Linked DNA regions of Homo sapiens. Each later gene encodes a partner of the first gene's protein in a complex. Each region holds a gene or a part of one and is shown on either strand. Other genes may lie near its edges. The genes, in order: LSM10 and LSM11.

Region 1 (11,594 bases):
ACAAATAAATAAATAAAATAAAATATGTAAACTCACTAGCATAAATTTATATATATAAATTATATAAACTCACTAACATAAACTCGCTAACATAAATTTCTATATATATAAAATATATAAACTCACTAACATAAATTTGTATATACATAATATATAAACTTACTAACAAATTTATATATATAAATTATATAAACTCACATTAACTCACTAACATAAATATGTATGTATATAAGTTACATAAACTCACTAACATAAATTTATAAACTATATAAACTCACTAACATAAATTTTATATAAAATATATTAACTTACTAACATAAATTTATATATAAAAATATAAACTCATTAACATAAATTTGTATATATAAAATATATAAACTCACTAACACATTTATATATAAAATATATAAATGCACTAACATACATTTGTATATATATAAAATATATAAACTCACTAACATACATTTGTATATACATAAAATATATAAGCTCACTAACATACATTTACATATATATATATATATATATATATATATATATATATATATATATAAAAAATATAGGCTGGGTACAGTGGCTCATGCCTGTAATCCTAGTGCTTTGGGAGGCCGAGGCAGGTGGATCACCTGAAGTCAGGAGGTCGAGACCAGCCTGGCCAACATGGTAAAACCCTGTCTCTACTAAAAATACAAAAATTAGCCAGGCATAGTGGTACGCACCTGTAATCCCTGCTACTTAGGGAGCTGAGGCAGAAGAATCACTTGAACCTGGGAGATGGAGATTGCAGTGAGCCAAGATCACACCACTGCACTAGCCTGGGCAACAGAGCAAGACTCTGTCTCAAAAAAAAAAAAAGTGTGTGTGTGTGTGTGTGTATATATATATATATAAACATAAACTCACTAACATAAGTTTAAAACTTATGTAAGTAGCAGTATTATCAACAATGAGGTTTATCTGCGGCACAATTCTCGCTCACTGAAAAATCCCAACACCCAGCCATGAAAACTTGCAATATAGTCGGCATTGGCAACTTTTGACAGTCTCTATGGAGACTGAATATTTAAAAGAAGAGAAGCAAATCCAGTCTCACATAGATAGCTGGAAAAGTGATCATACTTGCGGAAAGGCTGGCATAAGGGCCTTTTGAGAAGTTTGACTGTGGAAAGTAAGAAAACAGTAGATTGCATGGAGGAGAAAGACAATTTTATTTTTAGAATAAGAAGAGCCCAACTGTGATTGCTGATAAAAAGGGAAGCCTCCTAGGAGAGATGGAAATCAATGAATGAGAGAGTGAAGGAATGAAAGAAGCCTCTTTTTTTTGTTTGTTTTTTGTTTTTTTTTGAGACAGGGTCTTTGTCACCCAGGCTGGAGTGCACTGTGCAGTGGCACAGTCATAGCTCACTGCAGCCTCAACCTCCAGGGCTCAAGAGATCCTCCAGCCACAGCCTCCCACGTAGCTGTGATGGCAGCAGCGGCCCATCTGGAGCAGCCAGCTTCAACCACTTCATGCCAGGCAGAGGTGCAGCTGGGGCTACGTGCTCTGTGGAGCCAGCAGGGGCCAGAAACAGATGATGCCAGCAGGAGCCCCACACCCTACCAAGTTGACGGGGCATGGAGCCCTCACTCCTGGGCACAGCTGCAGCAACCCAGCCATGGCTCCAGACCCGGGCATCCCTGTGCTCTTGAGGGCCCAGAAAGCCCCTGCCCCCGCAGGCTCAGAAGTGCTTGCTCCCACTCCCTGGAGTCTCCCCACTCTTGGCGCCCACTCCAGTGCAGAGCAAAGTTGTGGCTAAGCCCGGGCACTGTTGTGACCCAGCTTGATGTGCGTGCACTGTGGGCGACACTGACACACCAACCCCCGCTGCCTCAGCACCCCCCCAGACTTTGGGTGCCAATAAGCATGTGATGGAGGCCAGGGGACTGAGGGTGGCTTGGTGCAGGCCTGCAGGCTCCCACCAGCACAGGCAATCTGGGCACCAGCAGACAGCACGTTAATAGTGCCAGGAGGCAATCAGGTTCCTAGGCAGAAGGGGCAGATGCCCAGTGAAGCCCCACCTTCAAGCCAGGGGTGGCCTGAAGCCTGGGGGTGGGGCTGCCAGTTCCAGGTGGAACCCAGGACAGGAGTAAGAACTTCATTGATGCCTTCCAGCCAATTGGATGGTACTTTTTCCAGGCCCACCCATGGCCACCCATGGGCCAACCAGCATGCACTTCCTCCATTCTTCGCACATGAAAACCCCAGACTCAGCCAGTCTCAGACACTCCACAGGACCTGCTTGCGGAAAGGAGCCACCCACTTCAGGTCTCCCGAGAGCTGTTCTATCACTCAATAAAGCTCCCTCCAGCTTGCTTACCCTCCAGTTATCCACATAACCTCATTCTTCCTGGATGCGAAACAAGAACTTGGGACCTGCCAAACAGCGGGAGTAAAAGGAGTATAACATATTCCTGGCCAGCTCGCTGAGCTGCGGGTGGTGACACACTCCCAGACTGCAGGAGTGAAGAGTGGTGACCCTTCCGGGGGCCCACCCTCCACCAGCGGGTAGCTGTGCCACATGACAGGAAGCGGTGGCTGGGCCTAGCCAGCCCAGGAACCACGGGCCAGAGCAGGGCAGCACTGAGCGGTAGGACTGAAAGAGCTGTAACACATATGGACTGAAACACGCCCCCGCCCCCCAAGATGCCCCGCCCCTGCTCCTCGTGTGGTGAAGAGCTGCAGCCCTTCTTGGGGCCCAGACCTCCGGGCTCCACAAGCCAGGGCTGTGACACACTGTAACACCCTCTTTGTGGCTCTGTGGTTCCTGGTGTCTCTGAGCTTTCGGCCACCACTGTGTTCCCCTTGTCCAGATGCTGGTGCCCACAGCAGAAGCCACTTACGGTATGTCTGGTCCAGCCGCAGCCTTGCACAGAGCCAAAGCCTGTGCCGGCGCCTGGAGCTGCCAGTGCTGGCCCTTGGAGCTGCCCACCCGCTGCAGCAGCCGGCCTATCTGGCTGTGTGCAGTGGTCGGACCCTGTGCTCACTCGCTCACACATCCCTCACTGCTCCACACCTGGCACGCCTTTGGCAGGCGTGGGATCCGAGCCCGTAGTGCAAGCTGAGCCCAGCCTGCCAGACTGAGCAGGCAGAACGAGCCCAGCAGGCACAAGCAAAAGTCAAGCACAGGCGCTGCTAGCCACAGAGGTTTCCAGATGGCAGAGTGACACCCTAAGGTTCTTGTGACAGCTGGGACTATAGGTGCACCCATTACACCCAGCTAAATTTTTTTTTTTTTTTTGAGACGGAGTCTCGCTCTGTCGCCCAGGCCGGAGTGCAGTGGCGCGATCTCAGCTCACTGCAAGCTCGGCCTCCCAGGTTCACGCCATTCTCCTGCCTCAGCCTCCCGAGTAGCTGGGACTACAGACGCCCGCCGCCACGTCCAGCTAATTTTTTGTATTTTTAGTAGAGACAGGGTTTCACCATGTTAGCCAGGATGGTCTCCATCTCCTGACCTCGTGATCCGCCCGCCTCGGCCTCCCAAAGTGCTGGGATTACAGGCGTGAGCCACCGCGCCCGGCCACACCCAGCTAATTTCTTAAAACATTTTTGGCCGGGCTCGGTGGCTCACGCCTGTAATCCCAGCACTTTGGGAGGCCGAGGTGGGCAGATCACCTGAGGTAGGGAGTTCGACACCAGCCTGACCGACATGGAGAAACCCCGTCACTACTAAAAATACAAAAATTAGCCGGGTGTGGTGGTGCACACCTGTAATCCCAGCTACTTGGGAGGCTGAGGCAGGAGAATTGCTTCAACCCGGGAGGCGGAGGTTGTAAGCCGAGATCAGGCCATTGCACTCCAGCCTGGGCAACAAGAGTGAAACTCCATCTCAAAAACAAAAAAAAATTTAGAGATGGGGTCTCACTATGTTGCCCAGGCTGGTCTCAAACTCCTGAGCTTAAACAGTCCTCTTGCCTTGGCCTCCCAAAGTGTTGGGATTACAGGTGTGAGCCACCACCCCCAGCCAAGAAGCCTAATTTACTGAGCTTCTTCTCTGTGCCAGATGCTTTCACACATTAATGAAGGTCACTTAAATCTTACAGTTCTCTGAGAAAGGCCTAATTTTTTGTTTTCATAACAAGCAAATTGAGGCTGAGGAAGAAAGTAATTTTTCCAAGGCTATACAGAGTGACTTTTAAAAAATGTAAATCAGGTGGGGCACAGTGGCGTGTGCCTGTAGTCCCAGCTATTCTTGAGGCTTGGGTAGGAGGATCACTTGAGCCCAGGTAGTTGAGGCTGCAGTGAGCTATGATCACACCACTGCACTCCAGCCTGGATGACAGGGTGAGAACCTGTCTCTACAAGTAAATCAAATCACTTCGCTCCCTTTCAATAGCCTGTCATAGCACTTCTAGTACTAGATGAGAAGACTGAGGCACAGAGAAGATACTAACTTGCCCAAAGTCACAATTAGCCAGGAGTAGATTTGAACCTAGGCACTGTATCCGGAGGCTGCACTCCTAACCATGAAATCTAAACTCCTTACCTTGGCTCACAAAGCCCTATATGCTCTGGTTCCTGCTTCCTCTCTGGCCTCTTGTTATACCACTCTCCCCAGCTTCCCTGGCCTTTCCTGTGTTCCTAAATTGTCAAGGTCATTTCCCCCAGGTTCTTTGCATGAACTGTGAAAAGAAAAAATTTAACTTTTAATTGGTGATTTGACTTTTTTTTGCCAAATTTGTTAAATCTGACTTTTATTTGCAACTCTAGAATCGGGCAACACTTCATTCTATAAAATGGAATGAGTGTTCAAATGAGCTGAGCAGAGGAGATTGGTTTTACAGCCAGAAAAGGGCTGAGGAAAGCAGAAACAGAAAACAAAAAGATTGGTTGTTTCAAAGTTACTTTCCTTGTAACTTTGAAGGCTAAAGCAGAGGGGACTTCCTTATCCTGCCAGCTAAAACAGGATGGTTTGGAGATCTAGCTATCTCTCACTCTTCTGATTTATCGGAATATCAGATAAACAACTTAGTTTCCACTTGGTGATGTAGAACTTTAGCATGAGTGACTCCATTTTGGTTCTGTTGGGCTTGGTGCAGGAGCCCTGTTCAAACCAATGGCCTCCAATTTTTTTTTTTTTTTGAGACGGAGTCTTGCTCTGTTGCCCAGGCTGGAATGAAGTGTTACTTTCTGAGCTCACTGCAGCCTCCACTTCCTGGATTCAAGCAATTCTCCTGCCTCAGCCTCCCAAGTAGGTGGGACCAGAGGTGTACGCCACCACGGTGGGCTAATTTTTTCTATTTTTTGTAGAGACAGGGTCTCCCCATTGTTGCCCAGACTGGTCTCGAACTCCTGGGCTCCAGTGATCCTTCCGCCTTGTCCTCCAAAGTGCTGGGATTACAGGTGTGGGCCTCTGCACCCGGCCCTGCCTCCTATAAATTTTACTTAACAAACTGTTCCCGCTAATTGCAATGCTCCTCCCATAGTTTTCACAAGCTTGGCTTCATGTCACTAATCTCAACTCAAATGTCACCTTCTCAGGGCACCCCTGACAATCCAATAAAAGACCACCTTGTCACCATCACATCACACCTTTAATCTTCTGAAGAAATTTTTCCCTATTTTTCTTCTTTGTTTTCTTAAGACTCTCTCCCCTGCAGCGCCATCAGCTCAGGGAGCCACTTGATCTTGGTCACTGCTCCATGCCGGAGCCTGGGAAGGAGCCTGGCCCAGGTCGCCGGTTCAATGAATGCGTGCGGAATGAATGAACGACTCTAGTGAAAGAGACTCCAATGACGCAGGCCGGGATTTGCGGAGCACGAGCCCCGCGCCGCGAAGCATTCTGGGGATTGTAGTTTCTCCGTGACGCGGTGACTTGCAGAGCACTGACGCACTCTGCGCCCGGAGGACAGAGCGGCCCGGTCGCCGGCATGGTTTCTCCGTCCTGCTGCAGCCGGCGGGAGGCAGCCAGTCCAGGCGCCCGCTAGCTTCGGCGGCGACCCAGACGGGGAAAGCGGAAGGAATGTCGCGTGGTGGGTCCGGGTCGGCGGTGCAGGGAGCCCCGGGGCGGAATGCGGGGGATGCCAGGACCTCCGGAAGGAGGTGCCGGAGCCCAGGAAGCGTTTTCTTCCCCATTTACCGAGTATAGCTCCTTTCCCCAGACCCGCTCCCGCTGCTCTGAGTAAGCGGTGCTCATCCCGTTTTACCGGTAGCTTAGCTAGCTTGGAGAAGCTAAGTGGTTTGCTAAGTGATCGCCCTCCTAGGAGGTGGCAAAGCCTGTTCTAGAACCCGGGCCTGACTCGAGGTCCGGTGACTGCTCTTTGCAGTCGCAGCAGCAGCCCCATACCTTTGCTTGATCGCAGATTCATCAGGCTGCAGCCGGGTGGCTGGTCGTTAGGCCATGCCCAGGGACCTAGCTCCCAGGCCCCCTCGTCACTGGCCTAGTCTGGCTTGCCACGCTCAGTGCCACAATGCACAGCCCTGGACGGGATGCTGAGTGAGGTCGTAAAGAGAGAGCGTTCCACCCCCTTTAACTCAGGTCTGAAAATAAGGGATAGGTAAGACATAGTGCACTAATACATTATCAGGGCATGTTGAAATCAAAGGAGAGTACCTTTAGTGGAGTGTGATTCTGGTAGCTTTGTTTCTCCTGTAGTTTAATAAATGTGGAAACAGGTTCAGAGACATTAACTTTTCTAGGTTTTCATAATTAGGGGTGGAGTGGGGATTCCAACCTAGGTTTCTCTACCTTCAAAACCTATGTACCTTATATAATACCGGTTGGGGGTTTTTTTCCCCAATTCATTATCCAGATTTATTTTCTTTTTTTTTTTCTGAGAGTCTCGCTGTGTCACCCAGGCTGGTGTGCAGTGGCACAATCTTGGCTCACTGTAACCTCTGCCTCCTGGGTTCAAGCGATTCTCCTGCTTCAGCCTCCCAAGTAGCTGAGATTACAGGTGCGCCCATGCCCAGGTAATTTTTGTATTTTTGGTAGATACTGGGTTTCACCATGTTGGCCAGGCGGGTCTTGAACTCCTGACCTCAGGTGATCCACTCGCCTTGGCCTCCCAAAATCCTGGGATTACAGGCGTGAGCCCTTGCACCCGGCCTCATTACCTTAATTTCTACTTACATAACAGCTGCATGGTGTAGACCAATAGTTCCCAGAGTGTGGGCCCCTGACCAGCAGCATCAGCATCACCTGGGAACATGTTCAAAATGACTTTATCTCTGGGCCTCACCTCAGACCTGAGTCAAACTGGGAGTGGGGCCCAGCAAGCTGAGTTAACAAGCCCCTCAGATGATTCTGATACACACTAATGTTTGAGAACTACTGGTGTCAACCAATGATTCTCAAACCTTAACGTGTATCTAATTCACGTAGGGGGTCATGTTAAAATGCAGTCTGTTTCCAGCCAGCGTGGAAGATGGCAGTGAGCCACTCAGTGAAGGAGTGGATTTTATCTCAGAACAGGCTTGGGGAGAGACCTGAGATTGCGCATTTCTAACCAGTACCCCTCAGCACTTTGGAGTTATCTGGGGAGCTTTCTTTTTTTTTTTTTTTTTTTTTTTTTTGAGATGGAGTCACTCTGCTGCCCAGGCTGGAGTGCAGTGGCACTCCACTTGCAGCTCACTGCAAGCTCTGTCTCCCAGGTTCACGCCATTCTCCTGCCTCAGCCCCCCGAGTAGCTGGGACTACAGGCGCCCGCCACCACGCCTGGCTAATTTTTTTGTATTTTTAGTAGAGATGGGGGTTTCACCATGTTAGCCAGGATGGTCTTGATCTCCTGACCTCATGATCCGCCCGCCTCGGTCTCCCAAAGTGCTGGGATTACAGGCGTGAGCCACCGCGCCCAGCCGGGAGCTTTTACAAAATAGGATACCTGGGCCCACCCCTCTAACCAAACGAATCAGAATCTCTGGGGTGGGGAGGTTGGGTTAAAAACTCACCAGATGATTCTAATGCACACCTGGTGTGAGGTTTGGAGCCAGACGGCTATGGATTTTCTTTTTTTTTTTTTTTGAGACAGAGTCTCTCTGTTACCCAGGCTGGAGTGCAGTGGCGTGATCTTGGCTCACTGCAGCCTCCACCTCCCGGATTCAAGCGATTCTCCTGCCTCAACCTCCGGAGCAGCTGTGATTATAGGTGCTCACCACCATGCCCGACTAATTTTTGTATTTTTAGTAGAGATGGGGTTTCACCATATTGGCCAGGCTGGTCTTGAATTCCTAGCCCCAGTGATCCACCCACCTTGGCCTCCCAAAGTGCTGGGATTACAGCGGGGAGCCACCACGCCCGGCCTGTGGCTACGGATTTGAATTCCAGCAATTCCACTTATTTACTGTGACCTTGGGCAAGTTACCTCTCCTAGCCATATTTTTCTTTTTTTAAAGTTATTGATTTTTTAAAATTAATGTATTATTAGGAATGATACAGACTTTTGTTGTTAGTCCTAATAATTTGTCTTGCATTCTCAATGTAGATAATCATATAATTTATAATTGACCAACAAGGACAGTGATCTTCCTTTATAATTATTGTTTCTCTAAATTCTTTCCCTTCTTTCCGTAATCGTTTTTTGAACATTGCATTGACCATTACCTACATTTTACTGTTGATTAGAAGCCATAAAAGGCATCCTTTTCTTGTCTCTGACCCAATAGAAATGCTCACCATTTTCTTTATTTTTTGAGACAGAGTCTTGCTCTTGTTGCCCAGGCTGGAGTGCAATGGCGCAATCTTGGCTCATTGCAACCTCTGCCTCCTGGGTTCAAGCAATTCTCCTGCCTCACCCTCCCGAGTAGCTGAGATTACAGGCATGTGCCACCACGCTTGGCTAATTTTTTGTATTTTTAGTAGAAACAGGGTTTCACCGTGTTAGCCAGGCTGGTCTCGAACTCCTGACCTCAGGTGATCCACCCGCCTCAGTCTCCCAAAGTGCTGGGATTGTAGTCGTGAGCCACCGCGCCCGGCCAATGCTCACCGTTTTCTTATAGGTTTTTCTTTTTTTTGAGACGGAGTCACTCTGCCGCGATCTTGGCTTACTGCAAGCTCCGCCTCTTAGGTTCACGCTATTCTCCTGCCTCAGCCTCCCGAGTAGCTGGGACTACAGGCGCCCGCTGTCACCACACTCGGCTAATTTTTTTTGCATTTTTAGTAGAGACGGGGTTTCACCATGTTAGCCAGGATGGTCTCAATCTCCTGACCTCGTGATCTGCCTGCCTCAGCCTCTCGAAGTGCTGGGATTACAGGCGTGAGCCACCATGCCCAGCCTTCTTGTAGGTTTTTTTAAAAAATCAGAGTTGGGGTCTTGCTATGTTGCCCAAGCAGGTCAGCAGAGCTCTTGGGCTCAAGTGAAGCTCCTACCTCAGTCTCCTGAGTAGCTAGTACCACAGGTGTATCCCACCGCGCCTGGCCATCCTAGCCATATTTTTCTCATTCATAAAATGAGCATAAGTAATCCTTGGCTTGCAAGTTGGTGTGAGGATTCTATGAGACATGTGCGGGAAGCATCTGTGTCCACAGATACAAAAATTGCAGAGGTGGTCTGTGCTGGGAATTTTGTTTGAGAACCTGGTGGAGGTGAGTTGGCAACTGTACCCCCTACCCTGCTATAGCTGCCATCTGTGTGCTCCTGTCCACAGCAAGCAGGCAGCTGGTGTGGAAGAATGGCGGTGAGCCATTCAGTGAAGGAGCGGACCATCTCTGAGAACAGCCTGATCATCCTACTGCAGGGCCTCCAGGGCCGGGTAACCACTGTGGACCTGCGGGATGAGAGCGTGGCCCACGGACGCATAGACAATGTCGATGCTTTCATGAACATCCGCCTGGCCAAAGTCACCTACACGGACCGTTGGGGGCATCAGGTCAAGCTGGATGACCTCTTTGTGACAGGCCGCAATGTCCGCTACGTCCACATCCCAGATGACGTGAACATCACCTCGACCATTGAGCAGCAGCTGCAGATTATCCATCGGGTGCGAAACTTTGGTGGCAAGGGCCAAGGCCGGTGGGAATTTCCCCCAAAAAACTGTAAGTGAGGCCCTCAGCAAGCCCTGGCCCCAACTCGGAGTCCTCCAGTGATCTCCGGAGCTAGTTCCCTGCCCTCACACCCTGTCTGGTACCCGAGAAGAAAGCAGGGCCAGGCCAGAAGCTGGTGTCCAACAGACACCACCTGTCAAAGCTGCCTTTCACAGGGTTCCACCTCCCAGACTCACTCTGGGACCCAGAATCCTATATGTGGCCTTGGGGTAGGTGACAATCCCCCTTTTTGATGATCTGAATCTCTGACTTATTGATTATGGAACCTGTCAAGTAGTTTTCAACTCTCCCAGTGAGGATAATTAAACATGCTCAGCCTGAGCCACCTCTAAGTGTCTCCATTTCTCATGCAGTTGTGTTCATTTTCTCATGAAACCCAACTTGGATACAAACAGGTCCGTGCCCCAGGCTTTCCCTTCTGTGTGCTGCGCTCCCAGGCCGTCCTGTGTAGTCGGGGGCAGACTCAAGCTTGGCTGCACGTTGGAATCACCTGTCCCACCCTCACAGATTCATATTTCATTGGTATGGGGTATGGTCTGAGGGCTATGAGTTTTTTTAATTTCCCAGGCAATTCTAATATGTAGCAGTTTTAGAATGGTAGGAGAGTACTTCAGTCTGGTCAGGTGGAAAATGGCTTTTCTATTCAGAGTCCTTGTTGAAGAGGCTGTTAGTCTTGTTGCTGTTTCCTGAAGCAGAGAGGTTGCAGTATCCTGGGCCCTCCTCCCCTGGGGTGTGGGAGCTCGGCACACACATTCCTGCACCTGTGGGAGCAGGAATTCCATCTCTAATCTGAGAGTTATTGGGTTCTCAGGGTTAGAACCCACGTCCTTGTAGTAGCTGCCTTGTTGTCATTCTAGGCCTGCCACAGGCAAACAACCGTCTTAGTGAAAGTGGCTCACTTGAGGTCAGGAGTTCGAGACCAGCCTGGCCAACATGGTGAAACCCCGTCTCTACTAAAAATACAAAAAAAATTAGCCGGGCGTGGTGGTACACACCTGTAATCCCAGCTCCTCAGGAGGCTGAGGTGGGAGAATCGCTTGAATTGAACCAGGAGGTGGAGGTTGCAGTGAGCCGAGATCGCACCACTGCACTCCAGCCTGGGCAACAGACGGAGACTCCATCTCAGGAAAAAAAAAAAAAGAAAGAAAGTGACTTTCTCCTGTGGATCCAGAGAGTTTGAACTCATCAGATATCCACACCACACCTGCCATGTGCCAAGGCCTTCTGCTAAGCACACATCATCTTTTTGTTTTGTTTTGTTTTCAACAGAGACAAGGTCTCACTATGTTGCCCATGCTGTCTTGAATTCCTGGTCTCAAGCCATCCTCCTGCCTCAGCCTCCCTGAGTGGTAGGATTACAGGCATGAGCCACCGGGTCTGGCCAAGCACACATTATCAGGTGAGATTTGAACCTTTTTGCATCGGAGCTTATATCCTAGTGGGGGAGGTGGTCAAAGAAAACAAAGATGAGGCTGAACACAGTGGTTCACGCCTGTAATCTCAGTATTTTGGGAGGCTGAGGCTGATGGATCACTTGAGGCCAGGAGTTTGTGACCAGCCTGGCCAACATGGTGA
Region 2 (11,206 bases), on another chromosome or scaffold:
CAAAAGTTTCAGAAAGGAACTTGCACTTTACAGTACATGGGAAGGTAAATAAGGATAGAGGTGAAGCAGACATCAGTAAACAAAGCATTTTGCATGATGTCTTTTTTTTTTTTTTTTGAGACAGTGTTTTGCTCTTGTCACCCAGGCTGGAGTGCAGTGGCACAATCTCAGCTCACTGCAACCTCCGCCTCCTGAGTAGCTGGGATTACAGGCCCCTGCCACCATGCCCAGCTGATTTTTGTATTTTTAGTAGAGACAGGGTTTCACCATGTTGGCCAGGCTGGTCTTGAACTCCAGACCTCAGGTAATCCGCCTGCCTCAGCCTCCCAAAGTGCTGGGATTACAGGCATGAGCCACTGCGCCCGGCCACATGGTGGTTTTATAATGAGGGAGTGTGCCACACTTCCTAGCCTTCTAGAGGCTTACTTTTTTTCTAGACATTTGTAGGAGAGAAGGGATATGTAATAGCACAACTATAATTTGAGGTAGTTAAGAACTACTAGGCTGCACGCGGTGGTTCACACCTGTAATCCCAGCACTTTGGAAGGCCGAGGCAGGCGGATCGCCTGAGGCCAGGAGTTCAAGACCAGCCTGGCCAACATAGGGAAACCCCCATCTCTACTAAAAATACAAAATTAGCCAGACATGGTGGCACAAGCTTGTAATCCCAGCTACTCAGGAGGCTGAGGGAGGAGAATCACTTGAAGCTGGGAGGCGGAGGTTGCAGTGAGCCGAGATCATGCCACTGCACTCCAGCCTGGGTGGCAGAGCGAGACTCTGTCAAAAAAAAAAAAAAAAAAAAAAGAACCACCAGAGCTTTCTGGTGTTTCTTTTCCATATGGTCTTCTATCTCCAACTTTCCTTTTCCCTGTGCTTTATCCCCATCCACGCATCCTCCTGGATAAGAACAGTAGCTGCTAACATATATTGAGTACCTGCTATGTGCCAGGTACTATACTGAGGGCTTCATATATTATCTCAATGAATGAGTTGTGGGTACTATTACTGTTCCATTTCACAAATGAAGAAATTGATTCTAGAGAGATTGGAATGTTGGTCGCAGATCACACTGTTAGTAAGTGGAAGTGCCAAACTTTTTCCTCGGCCTAACTCCTAAAACCATGTTTTTAACCATTAGGGAATTTGAATCCTAGCATCATCACTTGGTAACTGTGTGACTGTAAGCAAGATAATTTCTCTGAGCCTCAGTTTTCTCATTTCCAAAATGCAGGGAAAAATGTTTTATTATGATCTTTTTACCTTTGAAGAATTGAAGAGAATGTGTTAGATGATAGTGGTGATTATAACAGTACTGTCAGCTTCTATTTGTAGGGTGATTTACACTTTTCAAAGGAATTTGTCTTGTACTTCTCATTTGGTCCTAACAGCTGTCCTGTCGAGGTTGCTCTCGGTGATGAGAACTCACCAGCAATTCTGTGTGTAACCCTGGTTAATCTCTGTTAATTGCTTTCATAAGACATAGAAACTGAAGCGGGTAAAGAAGCAGTAATGTTCCTCAAAGTGGGATCTAAAGCCATCCTGCATCAGAATCACCTGGGGCTTCTGGTTGAAACAAAAGGTTCCTGGGCTTCATCCCAGACCTACCAAAACAGAATCTCCAGCAGAATAGCTTTGGGTTCGTATTTTAATAAACCTCCTAGATATTCTTGCACACTGAAATTTAAGACCTTCTACCATGCAGTCATAAAGGCCCTTACCATCCATAGGTGAAACCCATCTTATATGGTGATAGCAGCTTAAAAATATTACACAGAAGGTACCAGGTGTCACCATTTTCTTCTGCCTAGGAGCTGAGTCATCTGTTAAGTGTAGTTCTGCTCTGAATAGATGTTACTCTGCCTTTTTTTTTTTCCCTGAAAAAGCTATACAAATAATAATTTTAATTCTGTCTAATGTTTTTCCTTTTGGGCTGTTCCTCTAGGCACTTACTGATGTGGATGAGACCTACCGAAAACCTGTCCTAGGCAAAGCATATGAACGGGATTCTTCACTGACTCTCACTAGGGTAGGCAGTTTTCCCCTGACCTCCTGAGTAGCCATCATGCTTTCCAGCTTAGGAATTAAGATCCCTGAGCCCAGTGACTAGGATTTCCTAGAGGGAAATCTCTGTTGCTATAAACCAGCTGTGCCTGTACCAAGGTATTCCTTAGTTCCTCTTTTCATGCTTCCAGTGAATCTCAAGTGAGTCTGTGCTTGTAACCTGCATATTATTTGAGGAGCAAGTTGTCTCTTACAACACCTGAAAGTCTTTCAGCTTTATACCACAGAAATAAGCCTTTTCTCTTGACATATGTATTATGTGCATTATAGTTAGAAATAGGAAATTTATGGCCAGGCGTGGTGGCTCATGCCTGTAATCCCAGCACTTTGGGAGGCCGAGGCGGGTGAATCATGAGGTCAGGAGATCGAGACCATCCTGGCTAACACGGTGAAACCCCATCTCTACTAAAAATACAAAAATTAGTTGGGCAGGGTGGCAGGCGCCTGTAGTCCTAGCTACTTGGGAGGCTGAGGCAGGAGAATTGCTTGAACCTGGGAGGTGGAGGTCGCAGTGAGCTGAGATCGCACCACTGCACTCTAGCCTGGGCGACAGAGTGAGACTCCGTCTCCAAAAAAAAAAAAAAAAAAAAAGATTTATTACTAACTTTTAAAAAATTGCAAAGCAAGGAGTCCACAGAACATAATTAAAGAATTTGGTCTTTTTCTGTATGTTGAAAGAGGGTGATGAAGGCTAAAGAGAAGGCTAATATTTATCATTGTTTGCTTTATAGCTATTTGATCGGCTGAAACTTCAAGATTCCTCCAAGAAGGAAGCAGATTCTAAGTCTGCAGTTGAAGATTCCACTCTGTCTAGATACTCACAGACATCCACTTGGAAGTTGGCTTCAGTGTGGGGAAGAGCAGACACTGGCCGGGGCTCACACAAGCGTTCCCGCTCTGTCCCTTCTTCCCTGCAGGCCTCTGCAAGGGAGGAGTCCAGGTCAGAGCTGTCAGGGAGGACTACACGGACAGACGGCTCCAGTGTGGGAGGTACCTTTTCCAGGGCTACCACCCTTTCCAGAGGCCAGTCCCGTAAGAAAAAGCGAAAGCCCAAAGTGGATTACCAGCAGGTATTCACTCGACACATAAATCAGATTTTCATTCGAGGCGAGAATGTCCTGCTGGTTCATCTTGCACAGTGACCAGCTCAGCCTGAGCTTTGGTTTTTAGAAATAAAGTGCATGAATTGCTGCTATGCTGTATCCTAGTATCCCAGTGAAACTCTGAGTTGGAATGATTCCCTCTGGTCCTGCATATGCAGAGGACGGAGCAGGCTCAGCCCCCTGGAAGATGAGCTCAAGGGGAGGACAGGCCTTGGGAGGGCAGGCGTTTGCATTAATATCAAGGCAAAAAGCATTCATAGATACATGCATCTGATTTGGTATTGTGATTTACTTCAGACCCTGAAACCAAATATCTGATCTTCCATTAGACTTAGGGGTCATGATATGAGTGGAATTTACATTTTAGATACTATAGGGGAAAGAAAAGTCTCAAAAAGAAGTATTGCATGTCTAAAAGCTAGTGCCCTGAGTACTCATGAATTCGATTCCAAGAGTAGTGGTGTAAATTGCCTTGGAGCCCTGCATCCACGTCTTGTAACTAACTTTTGAATTTTGCCTGACATGATTCTCTCTTGATGAAGAAATGACATATATTATCTTTGAATATCTACAAGGAAAGTTACCAACTTATGTAGGGGTGAAATTTGGATAGGCGGTATGCTCAAAGCAGCCAGCAATGAGTGCTCTGTTTTGATCCTTCTTCTTATTATGGAAAGGAGTACAGGACCTCTTCAGTCTTCCCCTTACCAGAGGTAGCCTCTGCAAATGGCATACCAGATGGGACTCTAAGATGCTTGTGTGGTGGCTTCTTGTCCTTCTCTTTGACTTCTGTGGCATGGTGCTAGTGCATGTACCCTGTGGTATTGCCCCTCTGTCCGTAGTGTGAACTGTCCTGTGAGCTTTATGTCAGGAGACTGTGACCTTCATGTCCAGCTTCAAAGAGTTGTGCATGAACTCGGTAATACACATCACACGGCTGAGAGTCCCCTTTCCAGGCAGGGCCAGCATGTGTAGAATATCTTTCAGAATATGGTTTCACCATGAAACAGGGGTGGTAGATTTATTCCCTTGTGTCAGGCCAAAGAAGTTCTTACAAAGTACAGTGGGTAGTGTCTAAAGCGACACTTTACTCACAGCCTGGCTTGAGTCAACAGGAACACCATAGCACCCACAAATACTTCTACTTGAATCATATTCTGTGCTTTTTCAATCACTAGTGCAGAATAGGCTGCATTTGACACAGACTGTTAGGCAATATTGATTTTTTTGTTTTGTTTTTATTTGGTTTTATCTGAGATAACTTATGTTCAAGGTGAGAATAAGAAATAGCCAACTAGTTAAAATGTATGAAAAGAAAACTTTCCCCTGCTGTATTTGTTGTGTAACATAAATAAGCCTTCTGAGAAGCAGGGTGAATAAAGTTTAGGGAGCTGGGACACCTGGTCCTGCTAGCTGGACCACTGGCTCATCATGCAATGAAAAGGTGAGCAGACTTAACCCCTCCGTGCCTCAGCTTTTTCCCCACAGACACCTACCTCACAGGGGCATTGAGAAAAAAAAAATGAAGGCATTTTACAGTCTCTAAACATCTTTAAGTGCCATGAGTAATTTTTCCTGACTCTGTTTCATAGCTTTGTAAGAATTCTGTGTCTTTATAAGACACAGAAGCAAGGCAGGTGCTACATAAAAAAGTAATCTCAGCCAGGCACGGTGGCTCACGCCTGTAATCCCAGCACTTTGGGAGGCTGAGGCGGGTGGATCACAAGGTCAGGAGATCAAGACCATCCTGGCTAACACGGTGAAACCCTGTCTCTACTAAAAATACAAAAATTAGCCGGGCGTGGTGGCGGGCGCCTGTAGTCCCAGCTACGTGGGTGGCTGAGGCAGGAGAATGGGGTGAACCCGGGAGGCGGAGCTTGCAGTGAGCCAAGATTGCACCACTGTACTCCAGCCTGGGCGACAGAGCAAGACTCTGTCTCAAAAAAAGGAAAAAAAAAAAAAGTAATCTTAGGGTTCATAGTTATGATCCTGTTGTAACTATCTTCGGAAGGCAGCAGTATCTTCTGGAACTTCCATATTCCATTCCTTCCTCCTAAGGGACAATGGAAGTTCTCAGAAGAGTATCTTCAGTAAGAGGAGAGTAACTTTTTTTTTGCTGCTCCCGCTATATCCCAGGCCTCACCCTTTTCTGATCATTATCAGAAAGAATCCCCTGAACTTTTCAAGGGGTTTATATGGTAGCACCAAATGGAGAATGAGCATCTAAAAATGACACATCCCGAAAGGGCAATCTGTGGAAGTTTGTTGTTTGTTTGTTTTTATTTTTAAATGCATTGTAAAGTGTACTCTAGAGCCAGATCAGGTGCACTAAAGTTTATAGAGGTTCCAGTTTACAAACTCAAGTGAACAGTAATCTTTGGAAGCTGCCAGTCTAAATTCTAAATAGTGTATCTGAAATCTCAGTTCCCAAAATAGTTGTCAGGTTTAATCATCAGGCAACACTGCGTATACCTGTGTGGCTATCCTCATCTGCCTGCCCTCTCATCCCTCGGCTAGAATGATGTACTCTACTTTCCCAATAAGGTAGAAATTTGGAATCCAACGGAATATAATCAGTTTTCATTCATTCCAGTGCCTAGTTAAATCTAACCTGACTTAAACATATGCCTGTTTTTATGTTTACCTATAATTTTCATATAGCCGTATAAGGATTGATTTACCATTTTTTGCCCAACATGACAATTCTGGCTATGAAAATTATGTTTAAACTGTGTATGATCTATTTTATGTGCTCTATGTTCCCATTTGTTTGTTTGGTCTGGACAGTGGTTCTGGAATGAATTCTATCTAGTAAATTAGTAAATGTGCTGTTTTGTATAAAGCATGATAATTACTTTTTAACAGAAGTTCATTTTTAAAGATTACTCCCTTTTCTTTCTCTCTTTTTTTTGAGACAATTTCTCTCTTGTTGCCTAGGCAGTGCAGTGGCGCGATCTCAGCTCCCTGCAACTTCTGCCTCCCAGGTTCAAGCGATTCTCCTGCCTTAGCCTCCTGAGTAGCTGGGTCAGCCACCATGGCTGACTCATTTTTTGTATTTTTAGTAGAGAAGGGGTTTTACCGTGTTAGCCAGGCTGGTCTTGAACTCCTGACCTTGGGTGATCCACCTGCCTCAGCCTCCCAAAGTGCTGGGATTACAGGCGTGAGCTATCCCGCCCGGTCCCCTTTTCTTTATTATCGAAGATATTGTTTAAAAGAAAGAAAAAGTAGGTCCCAATAATATATGTGCTATTCAAAAAATGTGATCATTTAGGACATTATCACAAGTTGCTATGGAAATAACTGAAGACTTCCTCAGGAGAAGGAAAGAAAATGAGGAACATAATGATAGAGTCGGGGAACTCCCACTAGCTCACCTGAGGGGGGCTCGATGCAGCTGAAATACTGAATACTGAAATACTAGAAACCAACAAAACTGGTTTCTAGAATTCTCCAGGGATTTGGGCTTGGGAAACTTGGTAAGAATAGTTTTTATTTTTGAACATTCAACTTTGGTTCTTCAAAGTAATCTTTAAACATGGGAATATGTTTTCAAGACAATTTATAGGACATACTTATGTAGTTGGTGAGGTCTTCTCAAAAGTATCTACCTTTGTTAGATAATAACAAGTGATTAAGAAAGGGGAGATATGGTTTTATACTCATAACAATTTCCTGTGCCATTCTCTGTACACAGAGGTGATTCATTTACTCTCCCATTAGTAGAACTTGCACTTTGGGCTGTCTGTTCTAGTATTTGGGAAGTGTTTATGCTTCCTTCCAGGGACCATCTTATGATCAGAGGCAGGATGTCTGTGAGATGGTTAGCTAGAGTTAGCAGTGTCCGGGGAGAGTGGCTTTAGACCAGTCAGTACCTTGCTCTTTGTGCATGGTGCATGTCAAGTCAGGAAGCCAAGAAACCGTTGGCATTAAAATCTAGATGCATAGAGATCCTTGCTATGAGTTGTGGATAGGAGTGGCTCCATCTATCCTTGTGGTGAAAGAGTCCAGGAGCTCCTTTAGAGATTGTCAAGTCCTGAGCGATGAGCTGCCCTTAATCCTCAGAAGCCTTACAAAAATTGAGATGTACCATTTCTACCCTTTGAGAAAAAAGAAATAGAAACTTACTTGATGCAGAATGGATATTTATATTTCTGCTTGCACCATTTCCATAGCAGCTGACAAAGGCAAAATCATGAAATAGAATCATTTCTATAAATTGCTTCTTTAAGTTTTCTCTAAATTTTGCCTCTAGGAAAAAATTAAAACTATTCAATGACAGCTAGCTGTCACTGGTGCTACCCCAAAGCTTTCCAATCTTTTATGTATTTTTTGTGAATGAAACTGTTGCTGTAGGAAAGTCAAGGTTCATGTAAGAGTATCGTGGTGTAAATATAATGGTTTCACAGCTGTTTGAATTTTTCTTTTCCTGTGCCAGATATAGAATGCAGTCAACCCTTTTTCAGTAACTTATGTTCACCAGTCTGTGCTTTTCTTCTCCCAGAAGGCTTTTCTTAGTGGTTGTAAATGCAAGAATCCTGAGCCCTGTGTTGCAAAGGTGGGTGGTCTGTCAGCACTTTCTGGCAAATTGAGTTGATGGATTTAAGATAAGCCTTTGGGGTTCCTGTCAGTTTTCTGGGCCCTGAGGAAGGGTTGGGCCTCCTTTACTCTCAGTATTTTGAGTGTTTTTCAAATGTTTGTACGTTATCTTGCACTGCTCTAATAAAAATGAAAGCTCTCTGACAAGAAATAGTTCTGGATGGTTTGAAGATCTGCGGGGAAAAATAAGTGTGCACCTGAGACCTTCAGTTAGTCTTTTATTTATTTAGAATAAAAAATAGTTTGATAACCTACCAGAGTTAGTGCTTCTTTAAAAACACTCCTTGGAAAGATGGGGACTGTCCCTTAGGAAAGCCATAAAAGTGATTCCCAATACTTTGCAATTGCTTTTGATTTTTAGTCCTTTGGAACAAATGTGTGATGTTATGTCTGATGTTGTGTTTTTAGAGCTGTGAAAAGTCTGAAAAATTTCAAGGGGTATTATTTAAATGATGATTATCTGGCTGAATTATGTGTGAGCTAGAATCTAGGGTAGCTGTCCACTTCTTTTTCTGTTGTCCTGACAGTAAAGCAAATAGTAAGCCATGTCTTGAAAGTGATTTGCTTGTTTCATACTGACATCTAAAGACATCAGCCTTCTCTTTGGCAACCCTGGGGATACTCCTCTGCACCATAACTTATTAATGTTTTTTTAGACAAGGCTAAACCTGAATGACTCTACGTATCTATAGTTTCACTGCTCATATACCAGCTGCTACAAGAAAAACCATGACTTGTAAGTTTGTCTTTACTCCTAATTGCTAAATTAACTGAAACCCTTCCTGTCTAGGGAGAATTGCTGCTAGTAAGGTCAGTTTGCAATGTTCAGCTTTAGATATGTGTCGTAATGGGAGTCTGAAAACTGTAATAAACTGTATTCATATCCTGGCTGCTTTGTCTCTGTTGATTTAGGGGGGTGGGAGAGAGGAGGCAGGGGAGTCTGTTACCAAGTGAAGACACCTGTCTAGAAAGTTAGACCATCTCAAGCCTTCTGCATTTACATTATTGTAACCTTGTACCTTTTCTTTACCAAAGTCCACACATCTAAGTCACCACTCTTGCCGGGCGCAGTGGATCACGCCTATAATCGTGGCACTTTGGGAGTCCGAGGCGGGTGGATCACCTGAGATTGGGAGTTCGAGAACAGCCTGGCCAACATGGTGAAACCCTGTCTCTACTAAAAATACAAAAATTAGCCAGGTGTGGTGGCGGGCACCTGTAATCCCAGCTGCTCGGTAGGCCGAGGCAGGAGAATCACCTGAACCCGGGAGGCAGAGGCTGCAGTGAGCTGAGATCATGCCACTGCACCCCAGGTTGGGCCACAGAGCAACACTCAGTCTAAAAAAAGGAAACAAAAATAGCTGGGCATGGTGGCAGGCACCTGTAGTCCCAGCTACTCGGGAGGCTGAGGCAGGAGAATCACTTGAACCCAGGAGGCGAAGGTTGCAGTGAGCTGAGATTGCACCACTGCACTCCAGCCTGGGCGATAGAGCGAGGCTCCATCTCAAAAAATAAAAATAAGTAAAATAAAAATAAAACACCACTCTTGAGGTGGCTTTTTTCTTCCAAGTTTACTTGAAGTTCATGCTTAGGAAAGGAACTTGGCCCACATTCTGAATTATCTCCTCTAAGCTGCAAGCAGTGGTAATTGCCCTGTGAATTTATTCTACCTAATAGCTCACTGGCACTAGTCCATTCTGTTCATGATCTGCTGAAATCACCATTCATTCTGCTCCCTCTGAGTGTTTTACCACATTTGGCAAATCAATCTTCACATTCTTCCAAAAATATTTAAATTTTCTACCAGCTTTCCACTGTGCATGTACAGGAAGTTTAGCTGTCCCAGATTTGCCACATTGATTACTTGGATCTCTTCTGTGTGCTTCCAGAACTGAATCACCTGGTAAGGTAGACAAGAAAAGTCACATTTATTCTTAGAGGGGGAAACCTGAAGTTAACTGTCAAGACCCAGTTTCTCACTTTAAAGGATCCATTAACTTGAGCCCAGCTGACACACACCAAGTTGCTAACTGCTGCAGTAGAAAGGGAGGCAAGACCCGTGTGCTGTATGTCTGGTCCTTGCCTGTTTGTTTTGAATCTCAGATACTTCTGATTAAATGAGAATGTCCTAATTAATCAAAGTAATGGCAAAAGAGTCAGCTAGCTTGACACTGTAAATGTACAGTGACAGTTAAATGTTGGCAGGGAGTGGAGGCCAGTGGAAAGAGACACATCGATCACTCTCCCTGTGCTTCCAAGATAGGAGTGGCAAGCAGAAAAAAATGCCAACCGTTCTCTCCTTGGTTATAGATGAAGAGTTTTTCAGTCTGCTCAGTTACCACTAGGTGGCAGTGGGTTAAAGAAAACTGCTTACCTAGAGGTCCCAGAAGGACCGGAGTCTCTAGTCTCCAGTCACTGCTACAATTTATCGTTAAATGCTCACCAGTCAGGACTGAGTTAATTAAGGAAAAACAAGCTATAATCAACCCAAGTGGCAATATAAACGTTTCTTTTCAATATTGAATTTACCTAATTCGAAGCTCGGGAAGCCTGACTGATGGCGTTCAGGTAGTGAATGTGCTTGGGGAAGAGTGGCAAAGCGGGATTTCTCAGTGTCTGCTGTTTAAGGGGTCTCTCACTACTCTTCCATCCTGAGACTCCATCTCAGAAACTGTCAACTCCATCCAGCCTCTTCCCACCTGCTGCCAAGGGATTGCCCTGGGAAGCCTCTCTTAAAGCCCTTGTTTCTTAGCAACTGTCTCACTTTGAAACAATTCAGTTCTACCCAATGTTGCCTGAAAGCCCATTTGTGAGAGAGGTTGCAGCTCTCTTATGATTCTATGGCCAGAATTGAGCCTCCACTCCAAGATCGTGAGCAAATATGCTCGAGCCAGAGGGAACTTTCTAATAAACAGAGGAAAACCTGTTTTAGGTTGAGATACTGGCGGGCAGAAGTGGGGGGTGGGCAGTGCTAGTCAGGCTCCTCGCACATCACACCAAGACCTTCAAAAAGCCTTTCCCTCCCTACCTCAAGCATAATTTTTCAGCAGCCTATTCCTGTGGTGTAGAGGAATAACAGTATGTGAGATAATAGTAGATACTGGTCTTCAAATGTTTAAAAATAAGGTTATAATAAAGAGCCATTTTGATCCTTGGCAACTTGCACCACATTTCACTTAGTCACGCTGTGTGAAGAGGCAGAAAACAGATCATGCAATAAGAGACACGGTCCGTTTATAACATTTCATCCCTGCATTAAGCATATTACATGCATTACCTTGTTCAGATACCACCATGAGAGGAAGACTCTATCCCCTTGATATATGTGAGGAAACTAAAGCTCAGAGAGGTTATGTAAGTTGCTAAAATCTCTCTACTAATAAATAGTGAATTGAGGGGTCTATCTAGGTCTCACTGACTCTTAAGTTTATTGCCAGCCAATTTCA

What was found.
Region 2: LSM10 (region 1) and LSM11 share a complex: the UniProt entries of both Homo sapiens proteins name them as parts of the heptameric ring U7 snRNP complex.

What each region holds. Positions count from the first base shown.
Region 1 is NC_000001.11:36,392,182-36,403,775, reverse strand, and holds LSM10 (U7 snRNA-associated Sm-like protein LSm10), read left to right. Parts: upstream 1-5,867; 5' UTR 5,868-6,009; intron 6,010-9,622; 5' UTR 9,623-9,646; coding exon 9,647-10,018; 3' UTR 10,019-10,340; downstream 10,341-11,594. UniProt on the Homo sapiens protein: Appears to function in the U7 snRNP complex that is involved in histone 3'-end processing. Increases U7 snRNA levels but not histone 3'-end pre-mRNA processing activity, when overexpressed. Required for cell cycle progression from G1 to S phases.
Region 2 is NC_000005.10:157,752,062-157,763,267, forward strand, and holds the end of LSM11 (U7 snRNA-associated Sm-like protein LSm11), read left to right. Parts: intron 1-1,942; coding exon 1,943-2,026; intron 2,027-2,792; coding exon 2,793-3,203; 3' UTR 3,204-8,648; downstream 8,649-11,206. UniProt on the Homo sapiens protein: Component of the U7 snRNP complex that is involved in the histone 3'-end pre-mRNA processing. Increases U7 snRNA levels but not histone 3'-end pre-mRNA processing activity, when overexpressed. Required for cell cycle progression from G1 to S phases.